3 linked regions of the Homo sapiens genome follow. The protein of the gene in region 1 purifies or fractionates together with the protein of each later gene. This does not show direct contact. Each region holds a gene or a part of one and is shown in the gene's direction. Other genes may lie near its edges.

Evidence for each region. Proteins that work in one complex are often made in the same cells at the same time.
Region 2: the proteins of TCTN3 (region 1) and SERPINA12 purify together in Homo sapiens (affinity purification with mass spectrometry; 2 studies listed by BioGRID and IntAct, with this or other methods). This does not show direct contact.
Region 3: the proteins of TCTN3 (region 1) and CTSH purify together in Homo sapiens (affinity purification with mass spectrometry; 2 studies listed by BioGRID and IntAct, with this or other methods). This does not show direct contact.

Annotation. Positions count from the first base shown.
Region 1 is NC_000010.11:95,690,889-95,698,792, reverse strand, and holds the start of TCTN3 (tectonic-3 isoform a precursor), read left to right. Parts: upstream 1-4,865; 5' UTR 4,866-4,893; coding exon 4,894-5,149; intron 5,150-5,316; coding exon 5,317-5,440; intron 5,441-5,754; coding exon 5,755-5,873; intron 5,874-7,904.
Region 2 is NC_000014.9:94,492,470-94,499,469, reverse strand, and holds part of SERPINA12 (serpin A12 precursor), read left to right. Parts: intron 1-1,039; 5' UTR 1,040-1,072; coding exon 1,073-1,706; intron 1,707-2,826; coding exon 2,827-3,097; intron 3,098-7,000. UniProt on the Homo sapiens protein: Adipokine that modulates insulin action by specifically inhibiting its target protease KLK7 in white adipose tissues.
Region 3 is NC_000015.10:78,935,047-78,942,046, reverse strand, and holds part of CTSH (pro-cathepsin H isoform a preproprotein), read left to right. Parts: intron 1-2,875; coding exon 2,876-2,907; intron 2,908-4,223; exon of another isoform or gene 4,224-4,292; coding exon of another isoform or gene 4,293-4,361; intron 4,362-4,623; coding exon 4,624-4,729; intron 4,730-6,296; coding exon 6,297-6,367; intron 6,368-6,964; coding exon 6,965-7,000. UniProt on the Homo sapiens protein: Important for the overall degradation of proteins in lysosomes.

The DNA of each region.
Region 1 (7,904 bases):
AATACCTAAAAATGGGTAATTTATAAAGAAAAAAATTGATTTCTTACAGTTATGAAGCCTGGGAAGTCCAAAGTCAAAGAGGCATACCTGGTGAGAGCCATCTTGCCGGTGGGACTCCCTTGAGGTGGCCCTGGGCAGTGAGCCTGTGGAGAGTACCCTGACCTGTCCTCTGAAACTATTCTGTCCTCCTATGCCTCTGGGCCTGTGATGGGAGGGGCACCCTCTAAGATCTTTGAAATGCCTTTGGGATCTTTCTTCCCTTGTCTAAAGGAATGGTATCTGTCTCCCTTTTATCCAAACTAATCTCTTTAGCAAACAGTCACTGGGCTGCACCCTTGGTTTCCTCTGCTGAACGTGCTTTTTTACTCTTCATGTGGTCAGGCTGAGAGTTATCCAAATCCTTCCACTCTGCTTCCCTTTTCATGATAAATTCTACCTTTAAATTATTCCTTTGCTCCTGAATATCAGCATAAGTTGTCAAATGTAATCATGTAGCTCCTTCTATATTTGGCTTAGGAATTTCTTTTGCTAGATACCCTAGTTCATTAATCTCAAGTTTGGCCCTCCACAATTCCCTCAGGCATGGACACAGTTCAGCCAAGTTCTTTGCCAATTTATAACAAGGATGGCCTTTACTCCATTTTCCAATACCACCTTCCTCAGTTCCATCTCAAATCTCAGCAGAATGGCCTTTACTGTCCATATTTCTATCCGTATTCTGGTTACAATCATTTAACAAATCTCTAAGAAGTTCCAAATGTTCCCTTGTCTTTTTGTTTTCTGAGTCTCGCCAGAATCACCCTTAATACTCCATTCACTGAAATACAGTCACTTTATAGCCTGCTCCTTCAAACTCTTCCAGCCCCTGCTCATTACCTAGTTCCAAAGCTGCTTCCCCATTTTCAGGTATTTGTCATCAGCAAAATCCCACTTCTTGGTTCCAATTTTCTGTCTTCGTTCATTCTCTGTTGCTTATAACAGAATGCCTGAAACAGGATAAGTTATAAAGAAAAGGAATTCATTTCTTACAGTTGTGGAGGCTGGGAAGCCCAAGGTCAAGGGGGCATCTCTTAAGAACCTTCTTGCTGCTGGCAACTCTCTGCAGCATCCCAAGGCAGCACAGGGCATCACATGGTGAGGAAGCTGAGCGTGTTAACTTGCTAACTCAGGTCTCTGTTCCTCTTCTTGTAAAGCCACCAGTTCCTCTCTCATGACAACACATTAATCCATTAACCCGTGAATGGATTAGTCCATTCATGAAGGCAGAGACCTCATGATCAAATCACCTCTTAAAGGTCCCACCTCTCAATACTGCACATTGGGGATTAAGTTTTGAAATGAATTTTGGAGGAGACACGCAAACCTAGTAGTGGGCTAGGACCAGTCTCAACGTGTGGGGCCTCTCTCTTCCTCCTAAATGTCAGAAGCCATCCAGGGCACTGTCCTGCCTTTTCAGTAAAAGTATACATGGACTGCCTCCCGCCACCCCCACCACCACCTTTAGGGGAAAATTCTTCTGCTATCCACCGCAAGCACAAGTAGGGATAAGCTTGAGAGGCTGACCTGGCTCTTCCTACAGTGGTACTTCAATCAATAACTCATAGAATTGTCTAAGGGCCACTATTGATAACAAATACCTTCTTTCTGTGTGCTTAGAGCACTCCAAGAGTCACTTCCATTTCTGTATAAGGCCTTTATTATGCAACTGTTGTTTGTCCACCTTCAATTCCATCCCATGTGCCTTCTATTTTTCAAGTATTCTTATAATGTCTGGCCCATGAGAGCACACCTTCATGTATTTCAATTCTGGGCATGTTCATGTATGCACAAGTGTGTGTGTATCTAAGTTTTCTGTAATTTTCAGAGATTTTTGGAAAAGGGGGGAGAAGTGGGAAAAGGACAGAACTTGTTGTCTGCCATCTCAGTACAATCTCCTTGCTAAATTTCCAATTACATATTAAACTCTTTTAATCCCAAACACAGACAACTGCTAGTATCATATGATCTAATTTGGAAATCTCTGCTTCTGAGATGATATTATATGATCTCAATTTAAGACTTGGTCCCCATACTAAACCTGACATCTGCATGACACATGTGAATAAATTTCATTCTTCATCCACAAAATTATCTTTCAGATTTTAATACTGGATCTCAAAAGTATTGAGAGTTCTATATTACAGAGATTCTTACAAATACAAAACAGCAATACATGCCAGGCACGGTGGCTCATGCCTGTAATCCCAACACTTCGGGAGGCTGAGGCAGGCAGATCACTTGAGGTCAGGAGTTTGAGACCAGCTTAGCCAACATGGTGAAACTCCGTCTCTACTACAAATGCAAAAATTAGCTGGGTGTGGTGGGTACACCTGTAGTCCCAGCTACTAGGGAGGCTGAGGCAGGAAAGTTGCTTGAACCTGGGAGGTGGAGGTTGCAGTGAGCCAAGATGGCGCCACTGCACTCCAGCCTGGGTGACAGGGCAAGACTCTCTCAAATAAGTTAATTAATTAATTAATTAAATCAATAAATAAAACAAGTTTAAAAAACAGCAATACAAATAATCTTTTTGCTTAACTATAACAAAAGAGAAAAAAATAACTTTTCTAAAAAAAAGTTGTGTTAAAATTCAAAAATAAGAAAAAGCAACTCAAAAAGATCCGGAAACATTACTTCCTTATCACTCATCTCTAAAATTACTTCAACCAACAGTCTTTTGCCAACGCTAATAAATTCAGAAATAATTTAACACTATTTGAGAGTTGCCATTTAAATTCCAAACTTTGAAATCTAAAATAGTCTCTGATCAGATGTACAATGGAAATTTTATAGAAAGATCATTACATGGTAAATTGGTTGCAAAAAGAAGAAATTTTATAGAAAGAAATACAATCCTGAAATAAAATAAACTAAAAATATTCCTAAGGATTAATTCTAAAGAGTTCAACAAAACAATTTTTAATATATTTTTAAAATATTTAATGCACATCTAACATGTCCCAGACACTGTTCTAGGCATGGGGATATTTCAATGAACAAAACAGACAAAACTCACTATTTTTGGAATTTACATTCTAGTATATACATATGATCATATAATCTGAATAATATGAACTTGGCCTTTTCCTATAGAAATTACTAATAAGGTAAATAAATGTTTTAAGACCAAACACATATCTCCCATAGCTGTCTATCACACAACAACATAAAAACATATTTGAAAATATTTATAACACAGAGAGACTTTTAGCTACTGACTTCAAAACATTAGAAAATAAAGATCTTGTAAGAGAATTCAAGTAAAGTCAAATGTCCTAAAACTTACCTGAGTTAAATGATTCACTTGTAAAGGGAGGTGTTGACCAGATTTTAGGTAAGTGTACTAGATTTTAGATAACTCTTAACAGATGTTAATTTATATACTAAAACTAAATATCCAAAATAATCCAGATGTCAGAACCGTGGACATAGGAAAATACTGGGTCTAGGAGGAGCAATATTTTGATCATCTACAGTCCCACTGTACAATATGGTAGCTACTCACGTCTGTGGTTAACTTTGAATTAATTACAATTTAAAAATTAAAAATTCAGGCCAGGCACAGCGACTCACAGCTGTAATCCCAGCACTTTAGGAGGCCAAGGCGGGAGGGTCACTTGAGGTCAGGAATTCGAGACCAGCCTGGACAACATGGTGAAACCCCATCTCTACTAAAAATAAAAATAAAATTAGCCGGGCGTGGTGGCGCGTGCCTGTCATCCCAGCTACTCAGGAGGCTGAAACAGAAGAATCACCTGAATCCTAGAGGCAGAGGTTGCAGTGAGCTGAGATCACACCACTGCACTCCAGCCTGAGCGACAGAGCGAAACACCGTCTCAAAAAAAAAAAAAAAAAAAAAAATCAGCTCCTCAGTCACGCTAGCCACATTTCAAGCGCACAATTGCCACATAAGGCCGGTGACTACCATGCTGGACAGTGCAGCTACGGTACATTTCCAATACCGAAGGAAAGTCCCATGGCCCGCGCTGCTGTGGGGAATCGGAAGAGGCACGCCATTCCCGGGAAGAACAAAAACCTCCTAGAGAGGCTTAAAAAATTTGCCATTAACACGGGGAAAAAAATCTTCTATTTCCATTCCTCCATCTTATTTTCTCACCTCCTAGACAATGTTTCTTTTTTTTATTCTTTCTCTCCCTATTTTCTCACATTTTTCCTGCCCTTTTTTCTTATTTTTCTCTCACTGCTTTTTCTAACAACAAACATGCAGTCCATCTTTAATGATTTGATGCATTTCTTTAGGGTTTTCAAAATTTCTCAATGTTAAAATGTAAGGAGCTGAATGAACATTATTTCTAATGTGTTTTTTTTTTTTTTAAAAAAGCCATATTTAGAGGAGACTGTTTTTTAAGGTATGTGACCTTAGGTGTGTTTCCCCCACCTGAGAACATTATTCTTCCATAGAAAGGGTTTCTCACCGTTGGAATCCGGGGTGAAAAAAAATTTGCAATTCTAGTTCCGGCCTCTGGGGTTTCCTTGCACCGGAGGCCGGGCTCAGTCCTCTGGGCCGCGAAGTGGGCGCGGAACCTCTCGGTCCGCCGAACTCCTACCGCCACCTAGCGGAAGGAAGGCGCAAGGGCTTCTTCGTCACTGACGGTTGCCAGGCAACGGAGGCACGGCCCGGCCCGCGTTAAGGAGGAGGGCGCAGACCGAAGGACACTGAAAGAGCTGTAACAACCCCACTTTCGATTGGTTGAAGAGCTCTCAGCCTTCTCATGAGCCAATGAGAAGAGGCACGCGGATGGCGTCAGACGCTATGCGACTCCTCCCACCCACGCTCTGGCAATGCGATTGGAGACCGCGGAGGCCTACGTCGGACCCGGAGGCCCTGAATGCCCCATGCGCACCCCACAGCTCGCGCTCCTGCAAGTGTTCTTTCTGGTGTTCCCCGATGGCGTCCGGCCTCAGCCCTCTTCCTCCCCATCAGGGGCAGTGCCCACGTCTTTGGAGCTGCAGCGAGGGACGGATGGCGGAACCCTCCAGTCCCCTTCAGAGGCGACTGCAACTCGCCCGGCCGTGCCTGGACTCCCTACAGTGGTCCCTACTCTCGTGACTCCCTCGGCCCCTGGGAATAGGACTGTGGACCTCTTCCCAGGTGAGGGAAAACGTTGTGGGGGTGGAAACTTACTTCTGAGATCTAAAATTCTGTGAGCAAAGTTGAGCTGCCACAAAGCAGGAGTGGGGCTGTCGGAAGAAGGAGGGTGAGCACCTGGGAGAGTTTGGGGATCTTCATCCCACTCACTCTGTGTCGTACTTTCATAGTCTTACCGATCTGTGTCTGTGACTTGACTCCTGGAGCCTGCGATATAAATTGCTGCTGCGACAGGGACTGCTATCTTCTCCATCCGAGGACAGTTTTCTCCTTCTGCCTTCCAGGCAGCGTAAGGTGAGCTTCGTTGCTCAGACTGAATCCTAAAGGGGTTTGGGGCCTACAACGGGTAACATTTGGATGTAAGAAGAGTTAGTCTTTGTGCCTCCCACCCGTACTTCCACTCCTAGGACATTCCCTTGGTTTTTCCTAGGAATTGCCTTTTCTGATTCTCTAGAGCAGGGCTGGCCAGTAGAATAAGACCTTCGTGTCGTCCTATAGGTGCCCAAGGAGTCCTCTTTGGCATCATCTGGCCGATATTGCTGGGACACTCTTTTTTGGACCTGCCCCGCCCCTTCTAAATATATCTTCTCCCTCCTCTTTCCTCACAGGTCTTCAAGCTGGGTTTGTGTAGACAACTCTGTTATCTTCAGGAGTAATTCCCCGTTTCCTTCAAGAGTTTTCATGGATTCTAATGGAATCAGGCAGTTTTGTGTCCATGTGAACAACTGTGAGTAGAAACATGTTGGTTGTTCTCATTTTCTAACACAGGAGTGTTATATTTTGTCTTCCCTGGCCCACATTGGAAGAAGAATTGTCTTGGGCCACACGTAAAATACACTAACGATAGCTGATGAGTTAAAAACAACAACAAAAAAAAAGCAAAAAAAATGTCAAATGTTTTAAGAAAGTTTACAAATTTGTGTTGTTGGGCTGCATTCATAAGCCGTCCTGGGCTGCATGCGGCCGGTGGGTTGCAGGTTGGACAAGCTTGGTCTAACATTTATTGAGAATTGGCTTTTATTCTGGCCTTTTTTCCATTTCTTTTTTTTAAACTTTTTTTTTTTTTGTCCTTTGAATCTCTACGCCTCTTTCTGCCTCTTCTCTCTTATTACGGAATACATTTGCATTTTTGTTTTTTTTTGAGACGGAGCCTCCACCTATCGCCAGGAGTGCAGTGCAGTGGCACGATCTCAGCTCACTGCAACCTCCACCTCCCGGATTAAAGTGATTCTCCTGCCTTAGCTTCCCGAGTAGCTGGGACTATGGGTGTGTGCCACCATGACCAGCTAATTTTTGTATTTTTAGTAGAGACGGGGTTTTGCAATGTTGGCCAGGATGGTCTTGATCTCTTGACCTCATGGGCCACCCACCTCGACCCCCAAAGTGCTGGGATTACAGGTGTGAGCCACCGCGCCTGGCCACATTTGCAACTTTTTATGTTCTGTTGGCTATGGATCAGAAAACTCATAAAGAACTTTAATTTCAATCATTTTAATCATTCCTCTTAACTCAGATAATCACAGATAGACTATATTCCCCACTTACTACAATCTCCATGAGGGTACTAACTGAATCCCCAGTGCCTAACACATAGTAAGCACCAAATAATGTTTGAATGAACATCTTTGACAAATGAGTCTATGCCAACCTTATTTTCATTTCATGAGGCAACAGTGTAGGAGGAGCATTAGATTAGGATCTCAGTCCTGCCATTTCCTTACCAGCTATACAGACTTGGGCAAATCCCTTAGCATTTCCAGGCTCGTTTCTTCAACTGTAAAGTGAGAAATAATATCATTGGCTTTGTATATGAAAGCGCTCTACAACTGTAGAGTACAATAAAGATTAGAGGTTATTATTATTGGGGATGGTTAGTGGACTTAGAAATTTGCTGGTGATGGCTATAACATTTCTAAAGATATGAAGCTAATCTATCTTTTTAAAATGTCTATGAAGCAAAATAATGTTCCTGCACAAAATGGATTTAAATGTCTCTTGCATCCTGGAAGTCACCTCATCCTGATTTCATCTGACTGTTAATAAGAATTGCAAAACTATATTTGTCTCAGAAAACAACCAGTTTTTGGTTTTGGGGGACTTGAATTTCAAAGCAGTTATCAGAAGCCTTGTGGTTATTTAGATGGTAATAGGGTAAAGGGAACAAGATGAATACTTCATTTTCAGATAAGGTTGTGGCCTGACGCGGTGGCTCACTCCTGTAATCTTAGCACTTGGGAGGCTGAGGTGGGCAGATCACTTGAGGTCAGGAGTTTGAGACCAGCCTAACCAACATGGTGAAACCCTGTCTCTACTAAAAAAACAAAAAATTATCCAGGCATGGTAGTGGGCACCTGTAATCTCAGCTAGTTGGGAGGCTGAGGCAGGAGAATCATGTGAGCCTGGGAGGCTGAGATTGCACCACTGCACTCCAACCTGGGTAACAGAACGAGAGTCTGTCTCAAAAAAAGAAAGTTGTCTCTTCTTTTCCAAACATTTTACTGCCTTTTAAATCCAGCCTTATGATCATGCTCCAGGGTTATTGCAATGGCACCTACCTGGTGCTCCCTGCTTTTGATCCCCACTCCTGCCCCCGACACCATCCTGCACACTCCTTCGGGATCAGTGGATCTGAACTTTCTTTAAACACCTGAGGGAGGAATATGGCCACTTCCAATAGTAGTTATGGTTCATTACATCAATGAACTTTTTCCTGAACGAGGGTGGGGTGTACATTCATGTTTAGTATGAAAAAGGCAAA
Region 2 (7,000 bases), on another chromosome or scaffold:
AAATCAATAAGCTTTTTAGGCCAACATGCTTTTAGCATCTCTCTGCAGAATTAGGGCTGGAGATTAAGGGAAAACGTAGCTAAAAGTCTTGTCTCCCAGAAGCTCACAGTGGCCGTTGGAAGATGTCAAAGCTGAGAGGTGGATGAAAGGAGCAGCAGTCCAGAGCCAGGCAGACCTGGCTGTTCCTCTCCCATGGTGCCATCCTCTTCCCTCCCTGGGAAGGGTGTAGGGAAGAAGGTTTCCTGGAGATCTAAGTCCTCCTGGAATGAGTATCCACCACCTAGAGAACATATGAGCTTAAACAAAGAGCTTGATCTCTGTAAATTAGTCATAATTCTTTTGGCTGAAGGGGAAAAATTTACCTCAAACCAGCCAACTCTAAAAGGGAAATTTATTGGCTTTCATAACTTGGAAACATGGAAGTGGGTAGCAAACTGAGTTAAAGGTTAGTCCAGGGTCTCCAAAGATGTCATCAGATGTGTCAGTCCATTTCTGTCTTTCCACCTCCCTCTATCACTCTCCTCTCCTTCTACATGTGGAAACCATGGCCACATTCAGCTCCAGGGCTACTTCACAAAGCTAGCTGCCCCAAAGCTTAGGGGGTTTTGCATTCCCTTAGAAAGACACTGAGAGGTCTGATTTTGGTCCACACTCTCATCTTTAACCAGCCAGTGTGGCAAAGGAATGAAGTATTATGATGGTAGGTCTGGGCCATATGCCTACACTACGGGGTATCCTCACTGTGGTCCAATGGAGGGAAGGAGAGCTGTTCCTCAAAGGAATTGAGACACTGTTTCCATAAAGAGGGTACAAAAACAAGAGTTGTCTTCTACATTCAGTCCTCCTATTTACAAAGTGTAGAAGTCATTTCTAGTCCCCAGGGTGATTATAAAGTTTAAATGCTATAAAGGGGTCAAAGCACTCATAAACTGCTATGTACAACACATAATAGTCACTGTATTTCTTCTTTCATCTGGTCTTCCTCTGGGTAACATGTAGGCAATGGGGTTATCATGTTCTTTTTTTCTGCTGACCTCAGGTCTACTACTCAACAGGATATTCTTCAAGGAAAATGAACCCCACACTAGGCCTGGCCATTTTTCTGGCTGTTCTCCTCACGGTGAAAGGTCTTCTAAAGCCGAGCTTCTCACCAAGGAATTATAAAGCTTTGAGCGAGGTCCAAGGATGGAAGCAAAGGATGGCAGCCAAGGAGCTTGCAAGGCAGAACATGGACTTAGGCTTTAAGCTGCTCAAGAAGCTGGCCTTTTACAACCCTGGCAGGAACATCTTCCTATCCCCCTTGAGCATCTCTACAGCTTTCTCCATGCTGTGCCTGGGTGCCCAGGACAGCACCCTGGACGAGATCAAGCAGGGGTTCAACTTCAGAAAGATGCCAGAAAAAGATCTTCATGAGGGCTTCCATTACATCATCCACGAGCTGACCCAGAAGACCCAGGACCTCAAACTGAGCATTGGGAACACGCTGTTCATTGACCAGAGGCTGCAGCCACAGCGTAAGTTTTTGGAAGATGCCAAGAACTTTTACAGTGCCGAAACCATCCTTACCAACTTTCAGAATTTGGAAATGGCTCAGAAGCAGATCAATGACTTTATCAGTCAAAAAACCCATGGGAAAATTAACAACCTGATCGAGAATATAGACCCCGGCACTGTGATGCTTCTTGCAAATTATATTTTCTTTCGAGGTAAGGCTTTTGGCATGTTGGTGTGGAAAGAATAGGATGACCACTAGACTTGGGTTAAAAACCTGGGTTGGCCACTTGTTTACTCTGTGACCTTGAATTCATATGTGATTTATCTCTCAAAACCTCACTTTTCCTATCTGTAAAATGGTTACCATGATACATAACTCATACAGTTATTGAGATTTAAAGTGAAAATGTATGTGAAATGAGCTTTATGAAGTCTATCATTTTCATTATTGGTGATTATCCTAACACAACATTGGTTATAGAGGTTGGAATGACATTTTGTTCCCATCACTTAGATGAGAAAAAAAAATCAGAGTGAGATTAACTGACTTACTCCAAGTTACAAAGCCCATCATTGACAGTCAGGACTGGAACACATTTCTCCTGGCCCTAGCACTGTGTGCTTTCCAGCACTTTAAGCAGACACCTGAGATGGTGATTGTGTTGATTATGGTGATGGTGATCACTTGGTGGGTCTCCTTATGTATGTATTATATAAATTCTCCTTATCAGACTTTATATATTTCCCAGATCTGATGGAGAGAGACAGAAAAAAAAGATGGAAGAATGTTTCCAATTTCAACTTTATCCCCCAACACCACACAGAACACATGTACACAAACAGGTTGGCCAAAATAGGTGAGAATCAGAGGCCAACACCCATCAGTCCAGACAAAATCACTGCTGGAGTGTCAGGAACATGGTACTAAATATAAAAAATTGAGGGTTCTCAAAATCCACAGGCAGATTGATGGCTAAAGAAGAGTCTACTCACATCAGACTCAATTAGCCCTCATTAATTGTAATGCAGTCCCCTCTGTTAGGACATAATCAGTGGGCTTTCTCAGGCTTAGGGGAACCTGAGCTTATGGTAGTCTTCTTTTCCCCTCTTAATTTGGCAGTCTAGTCCTGGCTTCTTTGGGAACTAATAATTGCACCTGAGCCCATATCATCAGAAATCTCCAGGACATGGCATGAGGGCAAGGACTTCCCTGATATCCCGGAATATCCCCTTTCACCCTGAATCTGTGTGGAGAGAGACTACTGGTTAGTTGGATTTAGTCACCTTTTTTCCCTTGGGATAACATGTCTGTTTGTCTTTCTTCAATCTAAGCCAGGTGGAAACATGAGTTTGATCCAAATGTAACTAAAGAGGAAGATTTCTTTCTGGAGAAAAACAGTTCAGTCAAGGTGCCCATGATGTTCCGTAGTGGCATATACCAAGTTGGCTATGACGATAAGCTCTCTTGCACCATCCTGGAAATACCCTACCAGAAAAATATCACAGCCATCTTCATCCTTCCTGATGAGGGCAAGCTGAAGCACTTGGAGAAGGGATTGCAGGTGGACACTTTCTCCAGATGGAAAACATTACTGTCACGCAGGTAAAGTGGGTGCCTAGCCCTCGCAGCTTTTTCCTTCTCTTGTCTTCCCTCTTATTTCTGCTGTCTGAGCTCTTACCTCATGGCCAAGTCCTCTTCTGGGCTCTATAATAAACTTATATCATGGTGAGAATTAGACTGGGGAACAAATCATAGGAATAGAGTGAAGTGCCTGGCTCTTTGAGGGAGATTCATCAAGACTGTGAGGGCGCAGTAGATGGAGTCTTACTGGAGGGCGGTGGTCAGGGAGGACTTCATAGAGGAGATAGCATTTGAGCCAAGTCTTCAAGGGTGAGTGGCAGTCTGTATGAAAGGGTGAGGAGCAAAGGAAACTGCAAGGACAAACACGGGCTGTAAAAGAGAGCTGTGAGTTGTGAGTAGAATGATGTTGTCAACTGTGGTGTCACAACAAAACCCATGAAGTATCCAAAGTAAGTTATACAAATAATAGTTGAAGAATAAAAGAGAGTAAATATTTTTCTTTTTAAAACATAAACTGATATTAGATTAATGCTAAGCCTACAGAATTCCTCCCAGGCACTTGCTTACTGATAGATTTTGGGGGAAAAGGTAAGAGTTGGTGTTGGGTTTAAGTCTTGGGGACTTAGTGTCAGCGTGGACATACATAGTGCCTTGAAAGTGGCTGGGCTAGTGGCCTCTAGTAGCCAGAGCAGTGAAGGGGATGTAGCAGAGTGGGCAGTTTCCACTTGGACAGGTGTCAGATGTCCTCTTCTCTGTTCTCTTTCCCTCTTCCACCTTGTCCCTGTCATCATTCCCCATGCATCTCCATAAAGGTATTTACTAAGAACCTCTGCCACACCTAACGTCCTGTCAGGCACCAAGGACGGTACCAAGAGAGGTACAGATGATGCTAGGACTGAGCTTAGTAACCCATGGGTGGTAACTGAACTGATGCAACTCTTTTCATGCAGAACACTGTCTTGGAGGCATTCCAGAATGCATCTCTTATATCTAGAGTGAGCTGCAGACTTAAGAAAGGGAAATTCTGGCCGGGCGCGGTGGCTCACGCCTGTAATCCCAGCACTTTGGGAGGCCGAGGCGGGCGGATCACGAGGTCAGGAGATCGAGACCATCCCGGCTAAAACGGTGAAACCCTGTCTCTACTAAAAATACAAAAAATTAGCCGGGCGTAGTGGCGGGCGCCTGTAGTCCCAGCTACTTGGGAGGCTGAGGCAGGAGAATGGCATGAACCCGGGAGGCGGAGCTTGCAGTGAGCCGAGATCCCGCCACTGCACTCCAGCCTGGGCGACAGAGCGAGACTCCATCTCAAAAAAAAAAAAAAAAAAAAAAGAAAGGGAAATTCTGATTCCGAATGCTTCCAATTAAGTCATGGTACTGGGATGGAGGAGCCAAGTAGCAGAGCATCCCAAGAGCGTTGCCATCCCTTGAGATCTGCATAGTCTCACCTGCCCTTCCCACTGGGAACCAGGGAGGTGGAAGGGTTGGCAGAGTCTGGCCACTGAAACAAAAGGAGGGGTCCAGGTTACAACCTTTAGCTGAGACCTGGTCTTCTCATCTATGGTGTGTGGCCATAATATCGCCAACACCACAGTACTCTTGAGAGAATTAAATGTGCCTTAGCACAGCATTGCCCCACAGAAAACATATCCAAATGCAAATTCCTCTTTCCTTCCCATTGTCTAAAGAGGCAGAGCTCCAAGGTTCTCAGCAGAACTTTTGAACTTCTGGTTTATTGAATGACAGGTGTCCTGCAAATCTGACCCTCTTACCCTCAGGTTGAAGCCCTAGGGTGGCTGCTCTTCCACTGCAGAAGATGTTCCCAGTGGGAGGGGCGGGTGAGGCTGTGCAGATCTCGAGGGATGGCAGCGCTCTTGGAATGCCCTGTCACTTAGCTCCCCCCTTCCATAAATGTGACTTTATTGAAAGCATTCAGAACCAGAATTTTCCTTTCTCAAGCCTGCAGCTCACTCTAGATATCAGAGATGCATTCTGCAATGCCTCCAAGCCATGTTCCGTGTGAAAGGAGTCACATCAGTTCAGTTCAGTTACCACCCACGGGTTCCCCCATGTTGTCTCAACATGGGGACATCCCCAAAGGGACTGACGTGTTTCAGCCTGCACTCTACAGATTTTTAGAGTTCACAGAGATGTCTTGAGAGATCTCCCTAGGGAACTGGGGGGTGTAGAACATGAAGAGAAGGTAAGAAATGGGAGGGATGCCAGGTCTTCCACCCCACTTCATCCAGAAGTCTGGCTTTGTGAGACATGGACTCCAGAATATGACATTTCCCGTAGGACTCAAATTACAGTGGCTTGAGACTCTGCAGTTGATTTGCTGGAACTCACTGTCCTGAGTGCACTCCACCCCTATCTCCAAGCCATGTCTGACAATTTCTCCATGGGGCTACAGCTCAGGTGCTACACTGGGGGCTTCACATTCCCCTCACTGAGGCCCTCTGCAGCCCCTGGTGCTGTGACCACCATCAGGCCACCACCAACCACACAGATGTTCCCTGGGCACTGCCACCATCTCTCTGGCTTCAGGCTTCATCTCCTTTTGCACCTTTACACAAGAGTGAAATAGAACCTTTGAGATTTTCTGTAGGCTAGTGCCAGACTTCCTGGAGGTTTGGGAATAACAGAACCAAAGCTCCTCACAGGGACCCAGGATAACTTACAGCGCACAGAAGCGGCGTCTTGTGAAGTCCAAGTGTAAGCTGCTCTCAGTGGCGTCTCGTGAAGTCCAAGTGTAGAGTGTAGGCTGCTCTCAGTGGTGTCTTGTGGAGTCCAGGTGTAAAGTGCAGGCTGCTCTCAGTGGCGTCTTGTGAAGTCCAAGTGTAGGCTGCTCTCAGCATCTCTTCCAGGGCACCTCCTTCCATTTTTCTAGTGCCTGGTCTGCCTCCCCCATCCCTCTGGGACTGCTTTCCGCATCTCCTTGACTTGAGGCCAGGCCTCCCCACCAGGAGGGCCATAGAAAGGAAGGTTCCTCTCACCCCAGGGATGTCTTGCCTACCCAGTCACTTCTGGCCTTGGAATGACAGACAGGGTATTGTCCACCTTCCCGAGAAGAAACTCCAAATCCTCTTGCAGGACAGGGGGCTTGCTCACCGTCCCCAGGGAATTACATTTCATTAGAACATGATAGGAACAAACATTCCTACCTTCTGAGCTCATTATTTCTGGGAGATAAGTGGTCAAGTTGCTTTGATCTACAGGTGGGAAGCCTAGTCCAGAGAGCTCAGTGGCCCGCTATGGGAGAGCAGAGGTGGACGGGCTATCCCTATGCATTCTTTCTGCAGTCCTCTCCAGACTGGAGGGCCTAGAAGACACTGAGCAGAAAAATCACCTTTTCCCTAAAAGAAGTAACCAAGTCAACAGACACACACCAACTTACATGTGTGTAGAACATGTCAGAATTTAGGCTTCGGATGACTTCCACCTGGCCTCTGTGCAGGAGGCAGACACCTGCTTTGGATTTGCATAATTTGAGGCCAGGTGCTGCTCTGATTTCCCCAGAGGAAAAGCTCTGTTTCCCAGGGTCCACCTTTAGGAGCAGAAAACTGCTGGTGGCTTTGAAATAGCCATTGTCCTGTTCAGAAGTGTCGAGGGTCCACTCCCAGCCTGGGTGCCCCCCACACATTTCCGTACATATTGGTATATGCACTCACCTGTCAGCACAGCTGCACTTAGTGCCTTCCCACGTTGGCACAAACTAAAGCCGATCTCCTCATTTACGCACTGGACCTACGGCCCCCTGCTACTCAGGAACATCACCCTAGAAATCCTCTCCTCACTTTCCTACATCAGCATATGTTTTTCTCTCTTCTGAATCATTTCCATCAGATACAAAGATGCCCTTATCTTTCCTATCATGAAACCTCGCAGGGGGCCAGGGAAAACTTACAGCTCATAGAAGTGGCTTCT
Region 3 (7,000 bases), on another chromosome or scaffold:
AAGACCAGAATTAATGCTGAACCTTTTCTCAACCAAACAATATTCACTCATGAAAATATAAATCCATTGCGGGGGATGGGCAGTAGAGTACTGTTTATCACATTAAGAGATGCATTTCTGATACAATTTTACTTTTGATGTTTAACAATTACTTTTCATAATGTATAATACATTTGAAATGTTTTAATCAGTTGGGACACTAATAATAATTATGATTACTCAATCCAGAATAAATTTTTTTTTTTTTTTTTGAGACGGAGTCTCATTCTGTCGCCCAGGCTGGAGTGCAGTGGCGTGATCTCGGCTCACTGCAAGCCCCGCCTCCCGGGTTCACGCCATTCTCCTGCCTCAGCCTCCTGAGTAGCTGGGACTGCAGGCGCCCGCCACCACGCCCGGCTAATTTGTTTTTTGTATTTTTAGTAGAGTTGGGGTTTCACCGTGTTAGCCAGGATGGTCTCGATCTTCTGAACTCGTGATCCGCCCGTCTCAGCCTCTCAAAGTGCTGGGATTACAGGCATGAGCCACCGCGCCCAGCTCCAGAATAAATTTTTATAATATTCACAGATGTATGGGTCACAGGTAGTAAAAACATTTAATTTTTTTTTTTTTTTTTTTTTTTTTTTTAGACAGAGTCTCGCTTTGTCGCCCAGGCTGGAGTGCAGTGGCACGATCTTGGCTACTGCAACCTCTGCCTCCCAGGTTCAAGCAATTCTTCTGCCTCAGCCTCCCAAGTAGCTGGGACTACAGGTGCATGCCACCACGTCTGGCTTATTTTTGTATTTTTAGTAGAGATGAGGTTTCACCATGTTGGCCAGGCTGGTCTCAAACTCCTGACCTCATGATCCACCTGCCTCAGCCTCCCAAAGTGCTGGGATTACAGGCATGAGCCACGGCGCCCAGCCAAAATAAATAATTTAAATTTAAACTTTTTGTTGTTGTTGCAGAAAAGAATGTGAAGGTGATCAAGCATAAAAATGTATGTTCCCTTAGGATAAAATTCTGCCAGGTGGGGATGGAGATAGGTGTTCAACAAGAAAAAGAAACTCTGTATAATATCTGACTCTTTTTTGTTTTGTTTTCTTTATTTGAGATGGAGTTTCGCTCTTGTCACCCAGGCTGGGGTGCAGTGGCACAATCTCGGCTCACAGCAGCCTCCGCCTCTCAGGTTCAAGCGATCCTCCTGCCTCAGCCTCCTGAGTAGCTGGGATTACAGGCGCCTGCCACCATGCCCAGCTAATTTTTGTATTTTTAGTGGAGCTGGGGTTTTGCCATGTTGGCCAAGTTGGTCATGAGCTCCTGACCTCAGGTGATCTGCCCACCTTGGCCTCCCAAAGTGCTGGGATTACAGGCGTGAGCCACCACACCCCGCCTAAATACCTGACTCTTATAGAAAAGTTTGTTCATGTTACTGATGGTGGATATCAAATCATCATGGTATTTAGATTCCACTGGCTAGCTTTAAAAGAATGATATAACAATCTTATTTTTAGAGATTTTTTTTTTTTTTTTGAGACAAGGTCTCACTCCTGTCACCCAGGCAGGAATGCAGTGGCGCTATCATAGCTCATTGCAGCCTCAACCTCCCAGGCTCAAGTGATTCTCCCGTCTAATTTTTTTTATTTTTTTGTAGAGACGAGGTCTCACTTTGTTGCCCAGACTGGTCCCAAACTCCTAGGCTCAAGGGATTCGCCTGTGTCAGCCTCCCAAAGTACTGAGATTATAGGCTTGGGCCACACTGCCAGGTGTTATTTTTAAATCTCAATATTTATAAGTTGGAATATGTCTTTGGAGGTATTCAAATTTAAAATGAAATGTTTAGATAAGAACATACATGGGGAAATACGGCAGGAATCCAAAAACAAATGGCTGGCCTGCTTTTGTAAAATATTTTGTCTTGTTTGTTTTATTATGTTTTTGATAATATCTGTACATATTTGGGGGTACATGTGAGGTTTCGTTTTTGTGAAGTCTTGCGGGAACGCAGTCCTACCCATTAATGTTCACAGTCTCTGTGGCTGTCTCTGAGCCGCAGGGGCAGAGTTGAGTAGTTGTGGCAGAAACCATATAGATGGCAAAGCCTGAAATATTTACTACCTGTCCCCATAAGGAAAAACAGTGCTTGCCCTTGGAATAGATAGGTTTGTTTTTTGTTGTTGTTGTTTTTGAGACGGAGTCTCTCTCTGTCGCCCAGGCTGGAGTGCAGTGGCACGATCTCGGCTCACTGCAACCTCCGCCTCCCGGGTTCAAGCGATTCTCCTCAGCCTCCCGAGTAGCTGGGATTACAGGCACACACCACCATACCCAGCTGATTTTTATATTTTTGTGGAGACAGGGTTTCGCCATGTTGGCCAAGCTGGTCTTGAACCCCTGACCTCAGGCAATCGGCCCACCTCGGCCTCCCAAAGTGCTGGGATTACAGGCATGAGCCACCGCGCCCAGCTGGAGTAGATAGCTTTTTAAATTAACTTCTTACCGAAATATAACTTCATACAGAAAGGGGCACAAATCATTGAGTATGCATTTCCACGAATTTTCTCAATCTAAACACACTCAGTTAACCAGCGCCCAGTTGAAGAAACAGGATATGAGCAGCATCCCGGAAGTGCTTTCTGCACCCCGACCCAGTAGGCATAACCACCATCCTGACTTTCAACACCATTGACTAATAGTATATACTTTTTCACATTAATTTGGGGTACAAAACCAGGAAGAGTCGGAGTTTCTTTTTGCATTCTGCATTATATAACACCATTTTTGGTGTTTTAAATTTAGTCCAGTTTTCGAAAATGCAAATCAGTTCTAAAGTGCCCTACTTTGCTATAGACTCAACATTACTGTGATGCGCCCAGACCTAATTTTTTTTTTCTTTTTACAGAGAAGTTTCACTTCAAGTCATGGATGTCTAAGGTCAGTGCCCAACTTCTTCTTTTTGAAGTTTTTCATTTCACAAAGTTTCCTGTTATCAAACCAAACTGTCCCAGATTTGAGACAATGAAAAAGGGAATTTCCAACTTTGCCTAGTGGGGTCTTTCCAGAAGTTGAACTGGCCAAACACTGGGAAAGATGCAGTTAAGTAAATTCCTTCCAAATAGTGGTCCCAAGTGATTAACTTGGCTGACAGCCTTCCAAGCCCTGGGATTCATTTCTGTATTTTGTTTTCAAAGCACATTGTGGAGAATGTAAATTAGTACAACCATTGTAAAAAAAACAGTATGGAGGTTCCATCAAAAACTCAAAACAAAACTACCATATGACCCAGCAAGCCTACTACTGAGTATATATCCAAAAGAAAGGAAATTAGTATATTGGAGGGATATCTGCACCCTCATGTTTATTGCAGAACTAGTCACAATAGCCAAGATATGGAATCAACCTAAGTGCCTATCAATGGGTAAAGCAAATGTGGTGTATGTACACAATGGAATATTATTCAGCCATAACAAAGAATGAAATTCTGTCATTTGCAGCAACATGGATGGAACTGGAGGTCATTATGTTTAGTGAAATAAGCCAAGCATAGAAAGGCAAATATTACATGTTCTCACTCGTATGTGGGAGATAAAAAAGTGGATCTGATGAAGAAAGACAGTAGAATGGTGACTAGCAGAAGCTAGGAAGGGCAGGGAAGCAGGGATGAAGATAAACTGATTCCTGAGTACAAAATATTTTTTTTTTTTTGAGACAGAGTCTCACTTTGTCACCCAGGCTGAAGTGCAGTGGCACACTCTCGGCTCACTGCAACCTCCACCTTCTGGGTTCAAGCGATTCTCATGCCTCAGCCTCCTGAGTAGCTGGGATTACAAGTGTCTGCCACCATGCCCGGCTAATTTTTGTATTTTTAGTAGAGATGGGGGTTCGCCATGTTGGCCAGGTGGGTCTTGAACTCCTGACCTCAGGTGATCCACCCGCCTCAGCCTCCCAAAGTGCTGGGATTACAGGCGTGAGCCACTGCACCTGGCCCAAAAATAATTAGAAGAAATGAGACCAAGTGTTCAAAAAACAAGTAGATTCAACTGTAGTAAGCAATCATTATTTTGTATTTCCAAATAGCTAGTAGAGAATAATTTGAATGTTCCCAGCATAAAGAAATTTTTAAAGTAATGGATCTCCCAATGACCTTGATTTGATTATTACACATTATATGAATGTATCGAAATATTACATTTACCAAAAAAAGTACATCAGTTATATATCAATAAAAAATTATACACATTTGTTTTTAGAAAACCAAAGCACACTGTGTACTGGTTGCAGAATCAGTTGGGGAACACCAGTGCATGTGCTTTTGAAAAATGGTGATCTTTGCTGTAAACTTGACCCAGCACCAGCAGTGGCGTCCAGGAGTGCCCCACATGTGGCAGGTTTGTTCACCAGTGCCTCTTGGACCACATTCTGACTTTCACGCAGCTGCATGGTCTTCATTCTGGCCACAGGTCCCTGAAAACGGGGTTGTTTTGTAACTTCCCAAATTTCTCAGCAGTACCCCGCCCATTAACACAGATTTGGCCTGAGAATCATAGCAGAAAGAAAACCTTCATCTTTCCTCTTAGGAAAACAAAAAGGTCTCCCTCTAGGGAGCTGCAGCCTGTTTCCATGACTTGCTACTGGCGTGTTTTGTTTTAGCACCGTAAGACCTACAGTACGGAGGAGTACCACCACAGGCTGCAGACGTTTGCCAGCAACTGGAGGAAGATAAACGCCCACAACAATGGGAACCACACATTTAAAAGTACGTGGAACGCCTTCCTTCCTTCCTGGAAGGATGTCAGTTAGTGACCCAGCCCATGAAAGGGCCCGCTGGGGGCTGGTGGGTGGAGGGAGCAGAAGCCCAGGCTCTGAAGCTGTGTTTGGCTGACCTCAGATTGTGGCTCCGCTGTTACTCTCTGTGTAATGTGGGATCGTAAATTTGGGACAAAGCCGGTACCCCTCTGGGTGGTTGTGAAGTTTACAAGAGACTCTGTAGAAGCCCCTGCCCCATTCCTGCCATCTGAGGGTCCAGCCTGGAAGCCAAGGTCTGTCTTTGGATTGTTGCGGGGGGTAGGGGTTGCTCATGGGCTCAGAGCAGCCCCTGGGAGCATCTGCCTTCACTCCGGATTAATTTCACTAGAAACTCACATAGGCCGGGCGCGGTGGCTCACGCCTGTAATTCCAGCACTTTGGGAGGCCGAGATGGGTGGATCACCTGAGGTTGGGAGTTCAAGACCAGCCTAACCAACATGGAGAAACCCCATCTCTACTAAAAATACAAAATTAGCCGGGCTTGGTGGCGCATGTCTGTAATCCCAGCTATTTGGGAGGCTGAGGCAGGAGAATCACTTGATCCCGGGAGGTGGAGGTTGCGGTGAGCCGAGATAGTGCCATTGCACTCCAGCCTGGGCAACAAGAGTGAAACTCCATCTCAAAAAAAAAAAGAAACTCACACGCACGTCCAGCGTATTTTCTGAGGACTCTGAGAAATATTGGTAGTTGACTAAATTGGTAATAAAGGCATCAAGCATGAGCTGGAAAGAAACTTGGGCTTGAACCTCATTTCTGCCCAGTCCTAGCCTGTGACCTCCAGGGATGCTAACATGGGCAGTAAAGAGGAAATGAGCCCAGGTGTGGTGGCCCACACCTATAATCCCTAAAGACAGGGTCAGGAGTTCGAGACCAGCCTGGCCAACATGGCAAAACCCCATCTCTACTAAAAATACAAAACTTAGCCGGGCATGGTGGCAGGTGCCTGTAGTCTCAGCTACTAGGGAAGCTGAGGCAGGAGAATCGCTTGAATCCGGGAGGCAGAGGTTGCAGTGAGCCAAGATCGCGTCCCTGCCTCCAGCCTGGGTGACAGAGCGAGACTCTGTCTCAAAAAAAAAAAAAAAAAAAAGAAAAGAAAAGAAAAAGCAGAAATGATCACGCATCCCTGCTGGGGCTGTGTAGAGACCAAATTAGGCAGCAGGTGGGAAGGCCCCTGGCACCAGTGGAGTGGTTCTTTACCTAGCTATCCATCAGACTCACGAGGGGAGTATCTAAAAAAGTAAGTGCCCAGGCCCCACCCCAGACCAACTGCATTAGCATCTCTGGAGTACGGCCCGGACATCTATACCATTGAAAAAGCTCCCCAGGTATTTTGGCAGCACTGTAAGGGCTGATTGAATTATCTACTGAATTATATTAAATACAAAAACTTAAAGGAGATGGGTTGCAGTGGTTCTAAATACGACACAGGTAAACAGGAGGTTTCATCACTTTTTCTTGTTTCTTCATTAGTGATTCACTAACCATTTCTGTTTTGGTTTTTTCCTTCTCTTTTGTAGTGGCACTGAACCAATTTTCAGACATGAGCTTTGCTGAAATAAAACACAAGTATCTCTGGTCAGAGCCTCAGGTAGGTATAATTCATTGCAACCAAATCTGAATCCTTTTACTGAAACCTTTGGAATAAATTTGGAGCCTGCTCTGCTTCTAGGCAGATTCAGTCCCATCCCCAGATGCAGCTGAGGGTATCCCCAGATTCTTTGGGGGAACCAGAAGAGTCAGCTCTCAGCAGTTCCTCAGTCCAGGCCCATGGCCTTAGCATTGTGGACCCTTAACTTAGGGCTACCAGATTAAAATATAGATACTCAGTTAAAAATGAATTTCAGATACACAACAAGTAATTCTTTAGCATAAGTATATTCTAAATATTGCACAGGATATACTTACACTACAAAGTTATTTGTTGTTTACCTGAAATTCAAATTTAACTAGGTGAGCTGTATTTTTATTTGCTACATCTGTCTACCCTATCCTAATGCTCTGGACTCTCAAGGGGACATGTCATTTAGCACTTGGGACCAGTAGACAGGAGAGGGAAGGTTCTGAGAGCTGCAGCCTTTCTTATTCTCTCTTGGTGATTCCATGTTTATACATTTCTTCTTCTTGTTGTCAGAAAGGTTTTTGGTTTTGTTTATTTTCCTGAAAATAATGTGTTTGGTTGTTCCAGAATTGCTCAGCCACCAAAAGTAACTACCTTCGAGGT